3 linked regions of the Homo sapiens genome follow. The protein of the gene in region 1 interacts with the protein of each later gene in a pairwise test. Each region holds a gene or a part of one and is shown on either strand. Other genes may lie near its edges.

Region 1 (9,395 bases):
TTAACCTTGGTATCTACAACAGTTCCTGATACTGCTACCTAGTAGAAACACAATAAATATCCACTGAATAAGTACGCTTGGAATACATTGTTATTTGCCCTAGGAGGCTACACCAGTGATTACTACAAATGCAAGACCCATTCTAGCTGCCTAAGTTGTGAACAGGGTGAAAAAGATTTGGCATCTAGACTCAGTATTAGGATAAAATCCCATGGCTGCCGCTTATTAGAGCATGTATTCTGAACAGGGGCAATTTTACCACCCCGCCACCCCAGGGTGAAAATTGGTTCTTTCTGGGAGAGTATGAAAAAAATCTTAGATATTACAATGTTTTGTGTCCCTCCAAGGCTCAACTCTGTCCAACAAACTCTTATTCCTTAGGACTTGATTTCCTGGGGAAGGGGCACAGGGGGAGGGATACAATGAGGAAAAAAATGTCTTGAGGCCGCGCACGGTGGCTCACGCCTGTAATCCCAGCACTTTGAGAGGCTGCGGCGGGTGGATCACGAGGTCAGGAGATCCAGACCATCCTGGCTAACACGGTGAAACCCCGTCTCTACTAAAAATACAAAAAACTAGCCAGGCGCGGTGGCGGGCACCTGTAGTCCCAGATACTCGGGAGGCTGAGGAAGGAGAATGGCGTGAACCTGGGAGGCGGAGTTTGCAGTGAGCCAAGATCGCACCACTGCACTCCAGCCTGGGCGATAGAGTGAGACTCTGTCTCAAAAAAAAAAAAAAAAAAAAAGGCTTGAAAGGCTCCTCTCAGGGGAGCAATAAAAAAGCAAAGGTTGAGAAATACTGTACTAGGCAAAGGCCCTTGAATAAGTAATGTGACCTCTCTGAGCTCTGGCTGAAGAGAATATTTGCCTGTCTCCTAACTCAAAGCATTGTTAAGAGAACTGAAATAAAAATGAAATTGTACAAATATGAATTATGACTAAGTTACTAAGAGGCAGCTGTCTTTATTCATGTCCATCTATCCTATAAGTATCTCATCAAACTCTGTAGGATACCTTGACCACAGCCTTCTAGGCTTTCTTTGAGAGATGGAAGAAACTGAAGGGCATCTGACTACACTTCTTCACCCACTCTCCCAGGTATTTATGGTATGAGTCATTAACCACATCAAAAACAGTTCCTAGGGGGGGTGAGGTGAACACAATGCCCTTGGAACTCCACAGGTTTCATGCATGGGTATCTTCCTTTGTTCAACTTACCTTCAGAACTGACATTGAACTCTGACACCTTCAGACTAGCCTCAGACCTCTCAGCCAATTTCCGCCTGAAATTAGGCAAAACGATATAATAGGAATGAATAAATTTTATGGGGGCTTGGGGTTGGGAGAGACAAACACTTCTCTCTTCAAACAGGGCTTTGGTTTCTTGTATTTCTTCTAGGGTCATGTTTTGTCATGATGCAGCAAGGAGATCTGTTCCTAACTTGGACTTGGTTGTCTAACCCTCATCTCTTCTCTTTATTACAAGGTAAGCATAGTGGAAAACATATTGGACTTAGATTCAAACACACCTGAACCTGTAACTTATGAGCCAGGTGACCTTGGGGGTAAGTAAATTTATTTCTCTAATGGGGTTAAATAATGCCTACTCAATGCTTTAAAAGATTTTCAGTGTGGAATAAGACTGCAAATGCTTACAATAATAGCACTAAGACTAATAACAGCTAACAGTTAATTATATAATGCTTACTATATGCTAGGCACTGGTATTAAGGTCTTTACATGAAGCACTCAATAAATATTAGCTGCAGAGAAATCTCACGGAATTGACTATATAACCTGCCCTAACTGACGGGAACGTTACCTATTCTTTCCATCAAGGGAACTGATTGCTTCCAGAAGCTTTTGATGCTTTCTCTCTCCATCATTGTCCCCCTAAGACACAGAAAAGGAAAAACAATCAGGATGAGGGGGAGGGAAAAGACAACATGGAAATTGAGTCTCATGTAAAATCTCTTGTTATTTATTTATTTATTTTTGAGACGGCGTCTCGCTCTGTTGCCCAGGATGGAGTGCAGTGGTGTTATCTTGGCTCACTGCAAGCTCCGCCTCCCAGGTTCATGCCATTCTCCTGCCTCAGCCTCCCAAGTAGCTGGGACTACAGGCGCCTGCCACCACGCCTGGCTAATTTTTTGTATTTTTAGTAGAGACGGGGTTTCACTGTGTTAGCCAGGATGGTCTCAATCTCCTGACCTTGTGATCTGCCCGCCTTGGCCTCCCAAAGTGCTGGGATTACAGGCATGAGCCATCACCCGGGCCTGTTTTGGTTGGTCTTATAAATTATACTTATGCAACTTGAGGGTAGTGATTGTAACTTAGTTTCCAAATCCTCATAGCACTTAATATGATACAGTATCTTATATATGAAACACTAACCATTTGCAATTTATTTGAGAGACCTGAACAAATACATAGAACATTGTCACACCCTTCCATTCCAGGAATGTGCTCTCTACCCTAATTTTGAAGGCAGTTTAGCAATTGTCACCCACCTCATCTTCACTCTCACTCAAGAGGTAGTCTTTTGGCAAATCCGCTAGTTCTTCCTGTTGGCTCAAAGCCAGAAGGCTGTTAAAAGAGGCAACAGAGAAATGTGAATGCAATATACCCATGTAACAAACCTGCATATGTATCCCTTAATTATAATAAAAGTCGAAATTAAAAAAAGAAATATTATTATTTGAAGCAATGTCTAATCTATTAAAACAATCTCGAAAACATTGTAATTTCAGCACAGAATAGCCCTATCCCTCAGAAGATATATAAAGCAGCGTGAATGCCTTTGGAAACTTGTCAAGATGTGAAATTTAGACTGAAGTCAGGCATCACCTCCAAGAGTGATGCCTGACTTCAAAACTGCATGTAAAAGAGCTATCACTTTTCAGGGATTGGCACAACATTTCCTATGACCTATGGGAAGCTGTAAAAATGTCAGACCCTAGAATAATATGGCCAAAGACGCTGTTGCTAGCTAGCCCTGGAGGCAAGGCAGTTTCACGATTAATATTTCTAAGCATCCTCCATATATTTGACTCATTGATAGGCAGCCTAATCAAAAGTGTTATCTTGATCCTTGTTCCCAGGAATGGAGAAACAGGTCGAAAGCAGCTGGGTAAGCCACTTTCCCTGGGGCTTGCTTAGTAAAGTAGGTGCTTAACTAAGGAGATTGGTACCCACAAACAAATTATAAAATGTACCATTACCTAACAGCATATATTATTAGTATTTGCAAAGCCAACATTACTAAACGGACTACATTTAGTTCCGGGGGCGGGGTGGGGGGGGCACAAAACATCACAGGAGCCAAAACGTGGTGGATGACTCCAATCAGCAAAGCTTTCCAAGATTCGGGGAGTTTATAACGCCTGCACTGCCTGCGCAGAGGATTAAATCGGGCCGCGACAGAGGCAGAAAAAGGGGCCACGTGACGAAAAATGTGAAACACAGTAAATGAGCTGGGGAGGCAGAAACAGCATCAGGACCAACAGGGATGCGGCTATACAGCTGAGGAGCGGAGTAAGCGAATGAAATTAAATTAAAAGGGCTTTAAAGGCTGGATCGCGGAAAATAGGAACGAATGGCCAGCTCTTCAGGGGAACCACTGCCATCTGTTAAAGGGGGGGCTCCCATTTCCCAAAAGCTGGGGAACCCGGCCCCCAACGAGACCCAGAATCCCCCCTCCCCTCGTTGCCCTTCACCTCTCTGCAAGCCGGTTCGCAGTCATTTCAGCAGCCAGCTTCTCTCACATGGACCAAGAACGGAAGCCGAAGGAAAGCAATTTCCGTGCGGGCCGCAAAGCAATTTCTGTTTCCGTCAATCGCTCGCGACGTACACGTCACTTCCGTTCCGTACGAGGCGTGAGAGAAGCAGGAGCCGTGTAGGGAGGGGCCTGCAGAAAACTGGGAGGCCTGAGATGAAACGGCTGTCAGCGGGTGGGGCATTCCTTTCTCCACCCACCCCGTATTTCTCTGGCGCGCGGGTGTCTGTCCTCCTGGCCCCTGGTTTCCACGTGGCCCAAGGTGGGTTAGCTTAGGGCGACGGTGCTGCGCTCTCAGGGGCTGAGCCCGCGCCTTCATTCGTCACTGCAGAATCCAGAAGGAAAGACTACAGCGCCCGTCCTTGTGCGACGGCGTCCTGCAAGCCGACCACAAGCCAGCTCGGGGGTTTATTGAATGCCTATTAAGTGGCCAGATTGTGCCGGGCCCCGGAGATCCGATGGTGAACATAACAAGTTTCCTTCCATTTAAGGAAAAATCGCCTTTGATCCCTTGTAATTGCAGCTTTGTTCTTCATTTCCTGAGTCAAAAGATTTTTTTTATCCAAGAAGGGGCCATCAGTAACTACGCTTCCTCACCTCCCATCAACTTAAAAAAATTTTTTTAAACAACTTTTTTTCTCCCATCAACTTTTAAGAATTTTATTTATTTATTTTTGAGACAGAGCCTTGCTGTGTCGTTCAGGCTGGAGTGCAATGGCGTGATCTCAGCTCACTGCAACCTCCACCTCCCGGGTTCAAGCGATTCTCCTGCCTCAGCCTCCCGAGTCGCTAGGATTACAGGCACCCGCCACCATGCTCGGCTAATATTTGCATTTTTAGTAGAGACGGGGTTTTGCCACGTTGGCCAGGCTGGTCTAGAATTCCTGGCCTCAAGTGATCTGCCCGCCTCGGCCTCCCAAAGTGCTGAGATTACAGGTGTGAGCCACCGGGCCCGGCCTAATATATATATATATTAATTAATGATTGTAGAAAAATAATAGACAAGAACATTCTTTTCATTTTTTTTTTTTGAGACGGAGTCTCACTCCGTCGCCCACGCTGGAATGCAGTGGTGCGATCTCAGCTCACTGCAAGCTCCGCCTCCCGGGTTCACACCATTCACCTGCCTCAGCTTCCTGAGTAGCTGGGACTACAGGCGCCTGCCACCACACCCGGCTAATTTTTTTTTTTTTTTTAAGTAGAGACGGGGTTTCACCGTGTTAGCCAGGATGGTCTCGATCTCGTGACCTCATGATCCACCCGTCTCGGCCTCCCAAAGTGCTAGGATTACAGGCGTGAGCCACGGCGCCCGGCCCGTTCTTTTCATTCTTGTAATCCATTCCCATTTTGCTTTTGCCCCATTATTCCACAGAAATTGCTCTGGACAAGATCAGCGACACCCAAAGTTGCTAAATAAAACGGATACCTCTCAGTCTTTGGCTTCCCAGAACTTTGTGTGGCATTTAGTAACTGTTGATTTCTTTTCTTTTCTTTTCTTTTCTTTTCTTTTCTTTTTTTTGAGACGGAGTTTCGCTCTTGTTGCCAAGGCTGGAGTGCAGTGGCGCGATCTTGGCTCACTGTAACCTCCGCCTCCTGGGTTCAAGTGATTCTCCTGCCTCAGCCTCCCGTGTAGCTGGGATTACAGGCATGCGCCACCACGCCTGGCTAATTTTTGTTTTTTTTTTTTTTTTGAGACGGAGTCTCGCTCTGTCACCCAGGCTGGAGTGCAGTGGCACAATCTCAGCTCACTGCAACCTCTGCCTCCCTGTTTCAAGTGATTCTCCTGCCTCAGCCTCCCGAGTAGCTGGACTACAGGCACATGCCACCATGCCCGGCTAATTTTTTGTATTTTTAGTAGAGATGGGGTTTCACCGTGTTAGCCAGGATGGTCTCGATCTCCTGACCTCGTGATCCGCCCTCCTCGGCCTCCCAAAGTGCTGGGATTACAGGCGTGAGCCACCGCGCCCAGCCTAATTTTTGTATTTTTAGCAGAGATGGAGTTTCGCCATGTTGGCCAGGCTGGTCTCGAACTCCTGGCCTCAGGTGATCCTCCCACCATGGCCTCCCAAAGTGCTGGGATTATGGGCGTGAGCCACCGCACCCAGCCGATTTGTTTTCTTATTCATGAAATATTTTTGGCCATCTAGTATGTGCCAAGCCTCTAGGCATTGGGAATACATTGGTGAACAAAGCAGATATGTCCCATTGCTTCCTAGAGCTTACTTTCTAGTGGGATTAAAGACAATTTTGTCATTGTTGAAACTCCATCCTGAGATTTCATGACACCATTCTCTCCTGGTATCAGCCCTATGACCATCTTCCTCAGTCTTCTCTGCTGGATGCTTTTAATATACTTTTAATATGCTTACTCCCTAAATGATGATGTTTCCGAGAATTCTGCTCTAAGCCCTCTTTATTTATTACAGATACTCTTCCTAAGTGAAATTGCCTTTAACAGCTGTATGAGAACAAAATTTATATCTCTAGCCCTAATCTCTTTCTTGAGCTCCAGACTGGTATATCTGATTGCCTCCTGGCTATTCTTTTTGCCCCACAAGCACATCAAACATAAAATGACCAATAATTTCTATCTTTTCCACCAGAGTTCCTTTCCTGAATTTCCCATTTGTATGATTGGCCCATCAACTACCCAGTTAGTAAAATCAGAAGTCTGAGAGTCATCTTAGATTCCCCTCCCCCTTATGCTCCACAGCTGTTTGCCCACATTATCAGTTTTACTTCCCTGAGTCTCTTTCAAATATCTCCTTACCTTTCTCCATCATGTTTGCCATTGTATTAGTTCAGACCTTTGCAATTTGAAGCCTGTGGTATTGCAGTAATCTTATAGAAAGGGGGAGCATTATAGCATTTTCATACTCATGAAATATGAAGAATGAACGAATAAATACATTTCATGATGAAGAACCTGAGTTTTAAAGCTGGACTCTGGGATTGAATCTTAGCTCTGTCACTTACTAGTTTTATAATTTTTTGGGGGGGTTGGGGGAGACGGAGTCTCGCTCTGTCACCCAGGCTGGAGTGCAGTGGCGTGATCTTGGCCCACTGCAACCTCCACCTCCCGGGTTCAAGCAATTCTCCTGCCTCAGCTTCCCAAGTAGCTGGGACTACAGGCATACGCCACCACACCCAGCTAATTTTTTGTATCTTAATAGAGACGGGGTTTCACCATGTTGCCCAGGCTGGTCTCGAACTCCTGAACTCAGGCAATCCACCCGCTTCGGCCTCCCAAACTGCTAGGATTATAGGCGTGAGCCACTGTGCCCGACCTAGTTTATAATTTTTGAGTAAGTCCCTTAACTCTCTGTGCCTTTGTTTCCTCTTATTTATTTATTTAGAGACGGAGTCTTGCTCTGTCACCCACGCAGGAGTGCAGTGGCTCGATCTCGGCTCACTGCAATCTCTGCCTCCCGGGTTCAAGCAGTTCTTCTGCCTCAGCCTCCTGAGGGGCTGGGATTACAGGCATGCGCCACCGCGCCTGGCTAATTGTTGTTGTTGTTGTTTTTGTTTTGTATTTTTAGTAGAGACAGGGTTTTGCCACATTGGCCAGGCTGATATCGAATTCCTGGCCTTAAGTGATCCACCCGCCTTGGCCTCCCAAAGTGCTGAGATTACAGGCGTGAGTCACCCCGCCCAGGCTGTTTTCTCATCTTTAAAATGGGGATAATAGGCCTGGCATGGTGGTTTACCCTGTAATCCCAGCACTCTGGGAGGCCAAAGCGGGAGGATCACTTGAGCCCAGGAGTTCAAGACTAGCCTGAGCAACAGAGTGAGACTCCATCTCTATTTTTAAAAACAAATAAAAGAAAATATTTGGGAAAGAGCAACAAAGAAAAACCCAAAACAATACTAAGAATACAATAAAACAATATACAGTATAATTATTTACATAGCATTCACATTGTATTGGGTATTATAAGTAATCTAGAGATGATTTAAAGTATATAAAGGTCGGGCTTGGTGGCTCACGCCTGTAATCCAAGCACTTTGGGAGGCCGAGGCAGGTGGATCACCTGAGGTCAGGAGTTCAAGACCTGGCCAACATGACGAAACCCCGTCTCTACTAAAAATACAAAAATTAGCCAGGTGTGGTGGTGGGTGCCTAGAATACCAGCTACTCGGGAGGCTGAGGCTGAGAGAGTTGCTTAAAACCCAGGAGGTGGAGTTTGCAGTGTGCTGAGATCGCGCCACTGCACTCCAGCCTGGGCGACAGAGCGAGACTCTGTCTCAAAAAATAAAGTAAAGTAAAGTAAAGTAAGGTAAGGTAAGGTAAGGTGAGGTGAGGTGAGGTAAGGTAAGGTAAGGTAAGGTAAAGTAAAATAAAATAAAAAAAAACAAAACATGTATATAAGAGTATGTGCATAGGTTATATGCAAATACTATACCATTTTATGTCAGACTTGAGCATCTTTGTATTTTGGTATCCATGAGGGTCCTGGAACCAATCCTTCCCAGATACTGAGGGACAACGTATTTGTCACATATTAAATGCTTAACAAATGTCATAATAATAATAATGATTTTACTGACCTTTTAGTCTTTAGTCTCACTTCATCTAATCACTTAAGTTAGGCCACAGCATGCCCCTACTTAAAAGATGCAAATAGACCCTTATCGCCAAAATAAGAAAAACTCTCTAGTCCCTGTCAGCCTCTCCATCCTCTTTGAAACACTTGCCACTTCCCTCAGGGTACTCCAAATTATATTTTTATGGACAGATGATGTTTTCTTAATCTTATATAAAGTATGAATAAAAGCATTTTAGAAAACATTGACATTTTTATTGGTCTATACTTAATCTAAGTAAAGACAGTGTGTTTGCTATGCAAATGCAGCTTTGAGACAGATCCCCTAAGAATTCCCTCTTCACAGTTTTAATCAGATTGCTGCCCCTTTTCCCTCTTATGTAGAGTTATGGAACAGCCAATGCAATATTTTAGCTGAGATCTAAAGGATAAGAAGGAGCCAGTTTTGTGAAGAACTAGGGAAGAGTGTTCAAGGCAAAGAAAATAATGTGGGCTGGCCGGGCACAGTGGCTCATGCCTGTAATCCCAGCACTTTGGGAGGCCGAGAAGGGTGGATCACCTGAGGTCAGGATTTTAAAACCAGCCTGGCCAACATGGCAAAACCCTGTCTCTACTAAAAATACCAAAATTAGCCAGGCGTGGTGGCACGCCTGTAATCCCAGCTACTAGGGAGGCTGAGGCAGAATTGCTTGAACCCGGGAGGCGGAGGTTGCAGTGAGCCGAGATTGCACCACTGCACTCCAGCCTGGCGACAGAGCGAGAATCTGTCTAAAAAAAAAAAGTAAGGAAAGAAAGAAAGAGAGAAAAGAAAATAACATGGGCCCAACACAGTGGCTCATGCCTGTAATCCCAGCACTTTGGGAGGCTGAGGCCAGAGGATTGCTTGAGTCTAAGAGTTCAAGACCAGTCTGGGCAACACAAGGTGACCCTTCTCTCTACAAAAATATTAGCTGGGTATGGTGGCGCACTTCTGTAGTCCCAGCCACTCAGAGGCTGAGGTAATAAGATCACTTGAGGCTGGGTGCAGTGGCTCATGCCTGCAATCCCAGCATTTTGGGAGGCCGAGGCAGGCAGATC
Region 2 (4,550 bases), on another chromosome or scaffold:
ATGAATGACTTCAAGAGAGAATGGATGTAAGATGCACACAAAAAAATTTGATTTAAAGACGTATTAATTGGTAGCCCAAATCATCTCAATCATTTTTTCTATATCCTATTTTGCAAATGACATGTTTTAGCAGTTTCCAAAGCCCTATGCTTAGATTGTGAAGTTACTGAACAACAACAAAAAAATGCATCTCAATGTTAGCTCCTAAAAACAAAAACAAGAACAGAACCACAAAATCAGGACGTTGTATTAGTGCGTTCTCATATTGCTACACAGAACTCCTTGAGACTAGATAATTTATAAAGAAAAGAGGTTTAATTGGCTCATGGCTCTGCAGGCTATACAGGAAGGATGGCTCGGGAGGCCTCAGGAAACTTAGGATCATGGCAGAAGAGGAAGCAGGCATGTCTTACACGGCTGGGGCAGGAGGACAATGAACAAATATTAACAAATCCTAACAGTTTAGTAAGTTGGCCCTTGAAATCTGTGGAGTATTGGTTTCAGGAACCCCCGCTTGGATGCCAAAATCTATGGATGCTCAAGTCTCTGATATGAGCCTTCACAGTATTTGCATATAAACTACCCGCATTCTCCCACATACTTTAAATCATCTCCAGATTACTTGTAACACCTAATAAAATGTAAATGCTATGGAAATAGTTGTTACCTTGTATTTTAAAATTTGTATTATTTTTTGTTGTTGTACTACTATTTTATTTTTCCTGAGTATTTTCAATCCCCAGTTGGTTCAATCTGTGGATACAGAGAGCCGACTGTTTTAAGATTGCAAAAATAAGTATTTTTGAAATCTTCACATCCATTGTTAAGGTATTAAAAAATAATCACTCTGCAAATACTTGGACTCAGTATCAAGCTGAGAAGCCTTCCCCTCTATCTTTTAAAGTGAAGCCAGCTAAAAGCTTTGTCAGCTCGCTCTTGAAAGCAATAATATGGTCACAAAACTTGCTGTGACCATTCTGTCTCTTTACAAATTTTGTAAGGCTGGCCTGCTTTTTTCTTCCTTCTAAATGACTGATTGAGGTGATGATTAATCCTCTATAGCATGTAAAACAAGGTTCTCAGGAGCTCCGAGTCCTCCACGGTAGAGGACAGGGAAGCTGTTGTGCTCAAGAATTAATCCATCCGAGGGAATCAAAGGCAGCCACAATGCAGTCATCAGCATGTTTTCACTATGCAAGCCCCACACTTCCTACTTAGAAAACACATAACCATTACCCCATTCTGTATTCTCACAAGGCTCCCTTTTATTTATTTGTGTTTGTTATTATATAGCTCATACCGACAAGTTTGTGCGATTCCACTGGTGTGCACACATCCATTGAGACAGGAAAAAAAGAAGTGTCTATTGCAAACTTGTTAAAAGGGAAAAGGGACTCCCACTGTTTTCTCCCTTTGGCCAGGCTTCTATTTAGAGGACAGAGCTTTAACTCTTTATGTCCCAGGAGAGAATGACTCCTTTGTGTAATTTTAAATTCTGCAATGGCTTCTTTACTGATGGAAAGTCATAAATGAGAGAAAAAATGTTATTCATAGATTGCTGCAATCCTAGAAGCTGATGTGTCTTCAGAGTTACACAGAGTACATTAGACAGCACATGGGAAAACTTTTACTTCATTCTCAACATGCTTAAGCTATTTTTACAAATCAGTTAAACTATGTCTACACAAAGCTTAGAAGCACTTTATTTGGGAGCAATCAGTATTTTTGTCAAAACTTTTGGACAGGTCTTTATTTTTGTTTTGGAAGGTTCAACACGAATTGTGCAAAATCTCTGGATATATTAGTTTAGCGATATGGTTGTTGAAGAAAATAATATGTTTTAAGCATTCACAACGTGACCTCCCCCTAGAGCTTTTGTTGATGATATGAATGATCTGGATTCAGTGAGTTCAGTGGTCATTTAATCCAGTCCTACCTCTCATACAGCAGACAGATAGATAGATGAACAGACAGACAGATAACTAGATGTCAAATAAACTCCTGCTCCCTAAAAGTACTTTTGCAATTTCAGTGAAGACATGGCTAAAACTGAGTGGCACCTTTATGAGACTGGTGCTTTTTAAATCAAAGAAGATAGAAATGTACCTTTAATCTACGGCACTGCACCAGAGCAGAACATAAGCTATTCCTTCCCCCATGACAGAGGCATGAAGCTGGGGAGGACACAGGCATTCACCTTGACACAGAATGGGTCCTGGGATGTCTACTTCTGGGATGAACTGGAACATGAAGAGTTAAGTGCCCACATGTTCTCTCACCAACCTCACTCCCTGCCACATTCCAAAGGGATAGGGCTCAGTGACAAGACAGCCCAGTACCCAAAATGAAGAGGGAGGGTTCTCGAATTAATTAACTGGAAATGAGTCTTGTCAATGTTTTGGAAAGGCAGAGGGGTGAAAAGAGATTGCTAGAATTAATCACAGTGAGAAACTACTTCAACCGCCTGCCAGAGTTCAGAAAACCCAATGAGAAGAGGAATATAAAGAATGATGCTGACTTGCCATCTGAAGGGACAAACACAGTCAAGCCAACATCCAAGTTTTGTCAAATAAGGGTTGTGCCCTCCAAGAGACTGGTTTATTATCTGCTGTCACAGTAAGTACAATATATTCTTTAAATGCACGTTCTATCCAGGGGGACAAAGGCAAACCACACAGTTACATTAATGCAAAGAAACAAGAGAACACTCAGTTACTTTCACTTTTAGCTTATACACGTTAAACTCTACTACCTAAAAGATTTGTATGTTCCCAAATTTGTACTTATAAATCTTCAAACACTTGCAATTTCACATACGGTAGAAGATGAAAAATCCATGAAACAGATTCCAAAAATTCAGGTATTTGGATGTAGTTCATTCACTAAAGAAGAAGAAAGAAACAAAATTGCAGATGTAGCAAATCTGTTCACAAGATTCATCAGACAAAAGGGGAAAAAACCCAGAACTTTGGTCAGTGGTGACAAATAACTTAGAGAAACCTAAAACAATTCATGCAATATTATTCAAGGAGTTCTGTTTTTTAAACTATAGTGAACATTAACTATCTTTTAAAGAAAATCTAATTCCTATGAGTAACTTACTTTTAGACCATGTATAACTTTTGATATGCCTTTTGTATTTCTCACCCAGAATGAGTTTGAAATTGTCCCTCTTTTAAGAAAATGGCAGCATAAAGCCGGAACAAAAAAACCGTTTGCAGCTATCTTTAGGGCTTTCCTCGGTAAACCACTATAGAGGGCACAATTCTCCCATCCATATTCTTACAAAGAGCCTCGTGCTTGAAGCAATGGGGAAGTGGAAACAGCTTTCTACAAACCAAAGGGAAGGACAGTTCCCTCGAGGGTACTTACTGGCTTAGGGGTGTCTCTAGTAGATTTCAGGATCAGCTTTTCGCCTTTCTTTTCAACTTCAAAACCCACTTTTTTAAGTAGGGATGCATCTGCCAGCCCCTGTTCCTCCATCTTTGCAATCAAATCTTGGTTTTGGCTGTTGTCTTCGGTAAGGTTTCGGATGGCATATATCACCCACTGGGTCAGAACTGGAGCCAGAGTGAAGGAATGTGACAACGTACTTTCCTGTTTGATAACTTCACATAAGAATTATCAGAAAAGGAGTAGAGGAGCACAGAAACACGGAACATCCAGTATCAATCCACAAGTTTTCTTGAGGATGCATTCTCTGAATATGCATCTCAAGTGCAAACACATTAAAAAGAGGCAACGCAGGCATATGCACATGTACATCCAGCATGTGTGTGTGATGTCCAGCCACGGGCACCCAGAGAGATTTACTCAGTATTTGTTGAATGAATGAACAAGGAAGCAAAGACTTAGAGTAGCTCAAACTGAAGTTTATGAACCCAAGAACACACACACAGGCAAACGTGTGTGCGTGCACACACACACATTCCTTTGTTGAATAATTATGTTACTGACTCACTAGGGAAAGAATAAGAAGAGCACTAAAGAATCAGTCACAAAGACGTCAGGTTAGAATCAGGAAAATCATCTTGTTTTAATGGGAGCCCAGTTAGAAATAAGAATTGTTTCCTAGGAGTCACTGTGGAATTTCCCGCATTCAGTATTCTAAAGATGAAGCTGGAAGGGCTTTGAAGGATTTGCTGTGTTTAGTTTGAATACTCAGGCTCCTGAAAGCATCGGGGCTCACTGTGCCCAAGTGTTCACCTGGCACGTTCCGCTTGGCAGGAGACCAGAGACAACCTACGAAGACTGGGATAGCATCGCCACATCACTGAGTAGGGCATTTGATTTAATCACCAAGAGCCATGTAAACCTCATGCAAACATTAAGCTATTATATGTAGTTCTATAAAGGACTGTACAAAAACTACTGCAGGGACCAGTCTTCAGTGGTTGGATCCAGGGACATATGTAAGAGACTGCCAAGAGAGGCTGTGTCCCTACTGGGCCTGGCACCCTGATCCAGGGAGAACAACAAAGAACCTAGGGTAGAACAAATACCTATCCAAAGAAAGAGACCTCCCTGCCCACGAGCAGATAAAGGCAGCA
Region 3 (8,576 bases), on another chromosome or scaffold:
TGCCTTTGATGACAGTGCTGAGTCAAGGATCCAGCCTGGGTGCTGCTCTGTCCATAAAAACAGCGATGTAGACCAGTCTTGTAAAATGCATGCCAAATCTGAAATCTAGGTACCCCTCTTAGTACAGACAGTGTGCACCGGCTTCATCCTGTTACCGTTTTCTCCAGTTTCTTTGTTGTTTAACGTAGCATCAAATGAAAAGGTCACATGCATCTGTTTCAAAATCTGTTTCAAACAAATATATTCCTTCATTACTTTATTCTCCCTACACTTGAAACAAAGATTGATAACAGTAGCTAAAATATATTGAGCACTTTACCAGGCATTGCATTTTAAAATACTTTCACAGGTGTTAACTTATTTAAACATCACAAAAATCTTATGAGGCAGATATTGTTTGTAATCCTGTTTTACAGATGAGGAAACTAAGACACAAAGGTGTCAAGTAACTTTTGCTCAGCTACTAAGTTGAGCAAGGCAGCATTTGAATCAAGGCCTGACTCCAGGCCAGGAGTTTTAACCTCTCTCTTCCGTACTATGAAACAATTACACTGGTTAATTTTCATATATTGAATACCAAGCTCTTCTCTTATCTCATTTTAATTCTTATATTAATCCTATGAAGTAGACATTATTATCCATATTTTCCAAATAATTAAATGAGTTAAATGACATACTCAACATCATTTAATAAATGGCAGAGGTAGGATTCAAATGAGATCTCTCCAAAGACTCTAAAACTAGGACCCATCCATTTTGGCTATTGTGCTGTGTGAGAGACAAAAAAGCGAGTGTATGTCTGTATCTTTCAGGTTTGCTCTCCAATTTCAGTGTGATCCATTGTTATTTTCTTAAAGCCACAAGTATAGCCGCACTTTTTGCCAGTTGATTGGTAACTGTGAATAATATATGCACACTCAAAGTAGACCCATGGCCCCTTAAAATAAATTATGGCATTGTTTTTGTCTCCTTAATGAAAGTAGCTGTTATACTTTGTGGATCTCAAATGCTGTGTAAATAGTTGCTACCTTAATCAGGGATCTCTTTTACTAGAAATCTTTGTGGCTTCTGCATCCCCTAGAGCATGTGAGAACATATATTCTCCTGGGAACTGTGCTGGAACTAGGAACTTCTAGAGTTGACTTTTTTGTTTTGAGAGTTAACTCAAATTAATTCAACTCTCATTTTTCTTCTTTGCAATGTATAAACCCTTGACGAGGTCCATGTAAAAGTTATTCCTCTTGACTGGGCACAGTAGCTTACACCTGTAATCTCAGCACTTTGGGAAGCCAAGGCAGACCAATCACTTGAGGCCAGGAGTTAGAGACCAGGCTGGAGGCTCGTGCCTGTAATCCCAGGCTACTCGGGAGGCTGAGACAGGACAATCACTTGAGCCCAGGAGGCAGAGGTTGCAGTGAGACGAGATTGCACCACTGCAGTCCAGCCTGGGCGACAGAGCAAGGCCCTGTCTTAAAAAAGAAAAAAATTATTCCTCTTGACAGAGACTTTTCATCAATATCCTGGACTTGTGTTCCTTGATTCCTCTCTGAGTGAGGCCTGGCCCCAGAATCTCAGAGTGAAGTTTCCATCGTAACATAGATACCTCTGCCTAGGTGCTAATCCTCATGAGCTCACATATTCATAAAACATCCTTGATTCTTTGTTGGAGGAACCTTCTTAAACAAAAACCCATAGATACTGTAAAAGGGAGGCATACGAATGGTTTTCAGATGGTCATTGAACCCACTAAAATTGAGGCAAATTTTCATGCATTTGTGCATAAATGTAGTTTTCTAGGGAAAAAATGGGGATATTGCTAACTAAAAATACAGGAAGAATCACTGGTTTACATATGCTGTTTAAAAAAGGGGAGAGGAGCAGAGGTCACTCTGCTGAAATGTATCGAAGACAAAGCCAAGCTATCCTACCAGTGGCAGCCAAAAATAAAATGTTCTTGGCTATCAGGACATTTTTGTGGCATTTCACCAGGAGTCCAGGTGGCAGGTATAGCAAACATCAACTGACACTGAGTCAGGCCTGCAACTGAGTCAGGCCTCCAGGCGTGGCAGGCAGTCCTAGCTTGGCTTGTCATTCATTGAGAATCTCCCCTGTGCATAATCAGTGCTTTATAGATGTGTTAGTTCATTGAATCATCCCAACATCCCTGTAAGGTGGACATTTTTCTCTTTCTTTGACAAACAAGGAGATGCTTGGAGGGATTAAGTCACTTGGTCAAGGCCATATGGAGCCAGATAGTGGAAGGGCTGGATTTGAAATGCAGGTGGGCCTGATTCCAAAGTCTGTTTCTTCTCTTCCTACCATAGCTCATAGTTTCTCTGCCTGTGTGGGACACCAAAAAAAGTATTGTTTAGTGTAGCTTTTTATTGTGGCAGGACTAAGAGTCCCTCAAGAAATATGTTCACACACTGATAGGAAAAGCCTAAAATATTATCAAAGGAACAACAACAAGTTGTATGTCTCCCAGAGTGGCAGAAGAAAAGCAAGCCCTGCTTTAACTTAAGGTGAGTTGAAACTCCACACTTTTGCTTCCCCCATCGCCAGGTGTCTTGCCGAGTACCAAATGCACAGCAGCCCCCACCTAACACAGCCTGAAAACTATCTTGCAGGGGTAACTGTAAATCAAAACTTTATTCACTGCAAAGATGAATTTACTTTAAGGCTGTTCTGTCCTCTGAGGCTTCCCTGATACAGCAGCTGTGTCATGATCCGGAACACTGACTTGCTTCTAAATCCTGGGAGGGGCACTACTTACCAGATGACTTACGTGCTCTTTAGTTTTCAGTTCATACTGGTCTTGAAATCCTCTTTAGCAGCTGTTCTTGCTTCCAAATTATTATTTAAGCGCTAACAGTTTTCCGCTTACCTATATTCTTGCTATGATCGCATAGAACAACCCACTGTTTCATTTTGGGGGTTCAGAACAGCTAATGCCATCAATGTGGCAAACACACAAAGCAGAAATTTCGGTCAGAGTTGAGGGTATTCATAATAAAAATAATGAATCTCAAGCACTATAGAGGACGATTGTACTTGATCAACAGACCTGCCTGGTAACCGTTCCAGTGTGCTTCATTATGCTTTAACTCAGTGCTCTTCCAACATTTTTTTTTCTCTTTTATAATCCCTCAAGAATTTTTTAAAAATTCTGCAGCTCCATCACCTCCACACATTTAAGGTTACATCTAATGCTTTTCATCATAAATTTATAGAATCACAATTAATGTGATTTTCAGAATGTTGTAAACTTTGACAGTTAAAAATAAAACCGTGACATCATTCTTTGAATCCAATTAAAATCTAAATACCAACTTCAATTTAAAATGTATGTGAAGAAGCTCTTTTCACAAAGGGATGTTTTTATATCTTGCAGTTAAGCACCACAGTAAAATTTGGGATTTCTTGGGGTTTTGTTTGTTTGTTTAGTTTATATTTGTCTTTAACCTTATATGGCAGAAGGCATTTTGTGAAAATGGAGATGGAAAAAGGGGCCCCGAATAATTCTACAACCACAGGCACATTCTCCGGTAGATAGTTTTAGGAAAACATACAGGCAAAAGCTGCGGATCTGGAAATTAATGCCATTAACTTTTCCCTTGCCTGCAGGCTCTTTAGAAAGCCACTGTGGAGGCCAGGGGTATGCAAATGCCAGTTTGAAGATTGCACATTTATCTAGCACAGGTGCTGTGTGTTATGGGTCAGTGTGGCACAGCTACTGGCAGTCAGGCCCATTGCCTTTTGTGTATGGGACTCAAATTAGAGGTGAGTAGGGCCAGAAGGAGCTGCACAGAGGCTGGTCCCATTTTCTGCTCTCAAGTAGTGGTGACTGGGAATAGCTGTCTTTTATCTTTCTTCTATTTAATGATTTTCAGTACAAGATGGGCTAATTCCAGTGCTTTCTTTTCTTTTTAGTTTTATTTATTTATTTATTTATTTATTTACAAACAGGGTCTTACTCTGTTGCTTAGGCTGGAGAGCAGTGGCATGATCATAACTCACTGCAACTCCAACTCCTGGGCTCAAGCAGTTCTCCCAACTCATCCTTCCAAGTAACTGGGACTACAGGCATGTCCCACCACACCAGCTGGTTAAAAAATTTTTTTTTTCATAGGGATGGAGTCTTGCTGTGTTGCCCAGGCTGGTCTTGAACTTGTGGCTTCCAGCAGTCCTTCTGCCTCAGCCTCCTAAGTGTTGGGATTACAGGTGTGAGCCATTGCACCTGACCCCAGCAAGTTTTTAGATCAGTTGTTCTTAGCCAGGAGCAATTGTCTTCTCCAGGGGACATTTGACAATGTCTGGAGACATTTTTTATTATCTCAATTGGGGAAAAGGGCTGGCATCTAGTGGGTAGAGGTTGGGACTGCTGCTGAACATGCCACAAAGCACAAGACAGCTTCCACAACAAAGAATTATCTGACCCAAAATGTCAATGATGCCGAAATTATGAAACTCTGCTTTAGAAGTTCTAGTTTTCTCATTGAAATCTTCCCTGTTTAAATAATTTAAGTCAATTTTTTTGTCTTTACAAGATAGTAAAAAGCACAACATCTAAGAGCATCTAGGAGGCATGATAAAGTAATGAGAAGAAGAGATCAGATATCCCACTTACTGACTGTGTGAGCCTCAGTTTCTTCGTCTGTAAAATGGGGAAAATGATGCCTGGCTTGCAAAGTTATTGTGAGGATTGCAGACAATCAGTGTACAGGCCCCAGTCATGGTACATGCTAAATACCATAATTCTTTTTACGATCAAACAGCAATTATGTCACTCTCTAGTTTATCTGGGATGTGTGTGATCTTGCCTTCCTTTGAACCAAAGGTATGCTTTGTTTTTTTATAACAAAAAATTGTCTTGATTTGAATTTACTCATTGACGTTCGTATTTCTCCTAGACTTTAGGCTCCTTCAGACATCATTGTGTCTTCCAGCAGAGAACCTTACTCATGGTGAATACTCAACAAGCTTTTGTTGACCTGAAATATTAGCCAGAATAAATCCTACTTAATTTTCCTTTTCTTATAAGACTGAGTTCTTTTTCCCCTTGGAGCATTTTAATGTGTTTAGTAAAAACATTCACTTCCTGAAATGTAGCGCCCATTTTGTGTCTGTGCCCAAGATGAATGTGTGCTTGGTAATACCTAGAATCCTGGAAGTCTTGCTTTCCTGAATCAGGATCATGCAGAGCATTTCTGCTGGGGGAAGGGGAGTCTTGAGGAGGACAATATTTCATTGAAGAAATGACGGGCAGCATGGTTTGAATCTGGTGTTTTCCTTTTTGAACCCCTTAGGCTAATCCTTTTCGTCTGGCTTTGGTCTGACACTGTCCGATGAGCAGTCCAGTACATTGGCTTCTTTCTGGTAGAAGGGACATTTTGATTCCTTACCAGGTTTATATTTTATTCTAATGTCCAAAGTGAAGCGAAGTAATGAGTATATTTTCATTGAATAAATGAAATATTCATTCATTCTAATGAATAAATGATGACACAATGTTATACATCCTTTGCCTACAATCACTTAATCACTTCCCCCACTTTTTTTTTTTCCTTTTGAGACGGAGTCTCTGTCGCCCAGGCTGGAGTGCAGTGGCATGATCTTGGCTCACTGCAAGCTCTGCCTCCAGGGTTCATGCTATTCTCCTGCCTCAGCCTCCCGAGTAGCTGGGACTACAGGCGCCCACCACCACACCCGGCTAATTTTTTTTTTTTTTTTTGTATTTTTAGTAGAGACGGGGTTTCACCATGTTAGCCAGGATGGTCTCGATCTCCTGACCTCGTGATCCGCCTGCCTCAGCCTCCCAAAGTGCTGGGATTACAGGTGTGAGCCACCACGCCCGGCCTCACTTTCCCTTTTAGAATACATGCTAGATTGTTTACTCTGACCTGAAATAGTACCCATTTCTTTGTCAAGATGAAGACTTCACTAATTGTAATGGAAAGAAGTCCTCTCTTTCTGAATGCAGTTTTAGATCCTACAGCACACCATGTGGAAGTCTTTAAATGTTTATCAAGTTGTTGAATGTTAAAATGAGCCTGAGTGCAGGGGATGACCCTGAGACTCTGTCTCAGAACCAACTTGTGGAATGTCAGTTGGTGGGTTTGGATGATGGAAAAGGAAGCAGGCCCTGTGGGGAATGTGTGTTTTGACACAATGTTCCCTTTTAAAACGACCGTGCGTCTACTGTTTCACCATCTGCCCGTTAGTATCAATATAGCAAGAGGTTGTGGGAATTGGTGTGTATTTTGTGGAAGAAAGAATAACAACAACAAAAAAAAAAACCTTCTCTGCCGGCTTCCTTGAAAAGTGTGACTTTGTTCACTTTCAGAAGGTATAGGTTACAGCTGATTTGGAAAGAGGATCCTCCCTCTTTGAATGCCTTCAGGCTCAGAGGAAAATGAGAATCTATTTGGGTAAGTTAAAAATGCCAAACTAAATCTCCCAATGCAAATATGGACCACCCAGGGACACTGTAAAAGGCCAGATTTGGGGTTTTGAATATTTACACATTTTCTTGCCTCCTATTTTAAGCTTTTTAATATTTGTCAAATGCTGCTGAAAAGTAATTGGCATATCAAGCAAGGGTGAAATCCCATATCTTATGCCAGAGAATTTAAAGCCAGGGGAACTGTGCTCATTTTCCTTGAGTATCCCTTGTTTTTAAAAATGAAGAAATGTGAGTTCAAAAAATTCTAAGACAATAAATTAGAGACCTTAAAGTAGATAGAAAAGTTGGTTACAAAACTATTGTCGAGGAGGAGGAAGATATACTATCTTTGAGTGCTCCCTTTCCCTGGTATAGTCTGCCCTGACTGAGCCATTTTTCTCAGTAAATTGGGCAAAAGTTCATTTTTGACGATGGGTCAGGGTACTGGAAACATCACCCTATAACACTGTCAACACCACCGCTACCTTCCCAAATGCTGGAAAGGCAGATCTGGGCAGCACATGGAAAAAGTGTTTTCTAAACTTCCTGGAGGAAAATACAGAAAGTTGCTTTAACCAGGGCACATGCTCTGGAGACTGTGTGGTTAATAATGACATTTAGTACTTTCTTATTCTTTACACCCTCCTCACGGGGCATTCCATAGCACTTTAAGATGGGGATGGTAAAGGAGGGGTGCTTGAAGATGTCAACGCTGTCAGGGAAGGTGAAAAGTAACCAGAATTCCGACTCATTGGAGTGAATTTGATCAGGCTAGGCTGTGTCATGATGCAACAAAAAATAACTGCCAACCTCAGTGGACCAACACAACAAAAAAATTTTCTTGGCCACGTTACATGTCCAGTGTGGGTCAACAAGGGTCTGTGTTCACCATGTTCACTCAGAGGCCCATGCTGCATGAGGCTTCCTCTTGATATATACTTTTACAATCCCTGTGGTAAATTGCATACTGCATATTAAACCTCCTGGAAGTGACATATGACACCTCTACTCATGTTTCATGAGCCAAAAGCAGTTGTGTGGCCATTCCTGACTACAGTGGCATCCTTAAGTGTAGTCCTATGGGAAGGGAACTGGAATTTTCGTAATAAACTCAAATGACTATGGAAGGGAAGGACTTCCATGAAGTCTGCCTATTCCTGCTAATAACTACAGTCTCTATGGGGCACCCCTAGGGACACTGACTGATATGTAACCACATATGTAGTGGTTTCAGCCACCAACTCTACAAGTTAATTGGGAGAGTTCCCTGAGCCATTTGTGGGACTTGCAATAGAGGTGTTGCTCATTTGCTCAGCCACTGCATGCTCAAACCCTGTATGGGATGGGGAGCATGCAGACAGGCAGGTGCAGGAGCCAGAATGAGCACTTTTGGGCCCCAGCCCCATGGTAGCATCGAGGGATGCATTGTAATTAATGCTCTTTTAGCAGTTATTGTCCGTAGATGGCTAAGTATTAAACCAGCTTGTGCAGAGATAAGGTGACAGCCTTTTAACCCTGTCCTCTTGGTACCTGCATACTTGTCCGGCATCCAGGAAGAATCAGGTCACACATGGACTTGAAGGATGGTGAACATAGTGGTTTTATTGAGTGGTGGAGGTTGCTCTCAGTGGGATGAATGGGGAGCTGGAAAGGGGATGGAGTGGGAAGATGATCTGCCCCTGGAGTTCAGCCATCCTGTGGCCAGTCAGCTCTCTGACCTTCCCCAGCCGAACTCCTCTCGATGTTCAGATGTCCCTTCTCTTCTATCCTTCTCTGGTGCTCCTCTCTGCCACTCTGCCACTCTTCTGCTCATGGAGCCTGAGGTTTGGGGTTTTTGTGGGTACAGGATGGGGGCATGGCAGACCAGAGTGGTTTTAGAAAAGGCGACATTTGGGCATGAAAACAGAAATGCCTGTTCCCATTTAGGGCCGTTGGTTTCCAGGCTTGAGGGTGGAGCGTTTGCTGGGAACCACCCTCTTCTACCCAGTATTTCCTTGCCTCCTGTCCATATCACTAACACCTGAATGAATGCCCATTAAAATATAAAATGCATTTGCATGATTTTAGCATCATAAGGAATAACAGGTTCCCAGAAAACTGAGCTTACAAATATAAATTTTACTGATAATGAATA

What was found.
Region 2: the proteins of UTP14A (region 1) and ATXN10 interact in binary tests that used the Homo sapiens proteins (3 or more experiments, as listed by UniProt).
Region 3: the proteins of UTP14A (region 1) and DYNC1I1 interact in binary tests that used the Homo sapiens proteins (3 or more experiments, as listed by UniProt).

The regions. Positions count from the first base shown.
Region 1 is NC_000023.11:129,900,557-129,909,951, reverse strand, and holds the start of UTP14A (U3 small nucleolar RNA-associated protein 14 homolog A), read right to left. Parts: upstream 3,789-9,395; 5' UTR 3,742-3,788; coding exon 3,716-3,741; intron 2,689-3,715; exon of another isoform or gene 2,586-2,688; coding exon 2,510-2,585; exon of another isoform or gene 1,893-2,509; coding exon 1,822-1,892; exon of another isoform or gene 1,399-1,821; intron 1,283-1,398; coding exon 1,218-1,282; intron 1-1,217. UniProt on the Homo sapiens protein: May be required for ribosome biogenesis.
Region 2 is NC_000022.11:45,842,001-45,846,550, reverse strand, and holds the end of ATXN10 (ataxin-10), read right to left. Parts: intron 3,561-4,550; coding exon 3,373-3,560; intron 2,883-3,372; coding exon 2,880-2,882; 3' UTR 1,244-2,879; downstream 1-1,243. UniProt on the Homo sapiens protein: May play a role in the regulation of cytokinesis. May play a role in signaling by stimulating protein glycosylation. Induces neuritogenesis by activating the Ras-MAP kinase pathway and is necessary for the survival of cerebellar neurons.
Region 3 is NC_000007.14:95,774,721-95,783,296, forward strand, and holds part of DYNC1I1 (cytoplasmic dynein 1 intermediate chain 1), read left to right. Parts: intron 1-8,576. UniProt on the Homo sapiens protein: Acts as one of several non-catalytic accessory components of the cytoplasmic dynein 1 complex that are thought to be involved in linking dynein to cargos and to adapter proteins that regulate dynein function.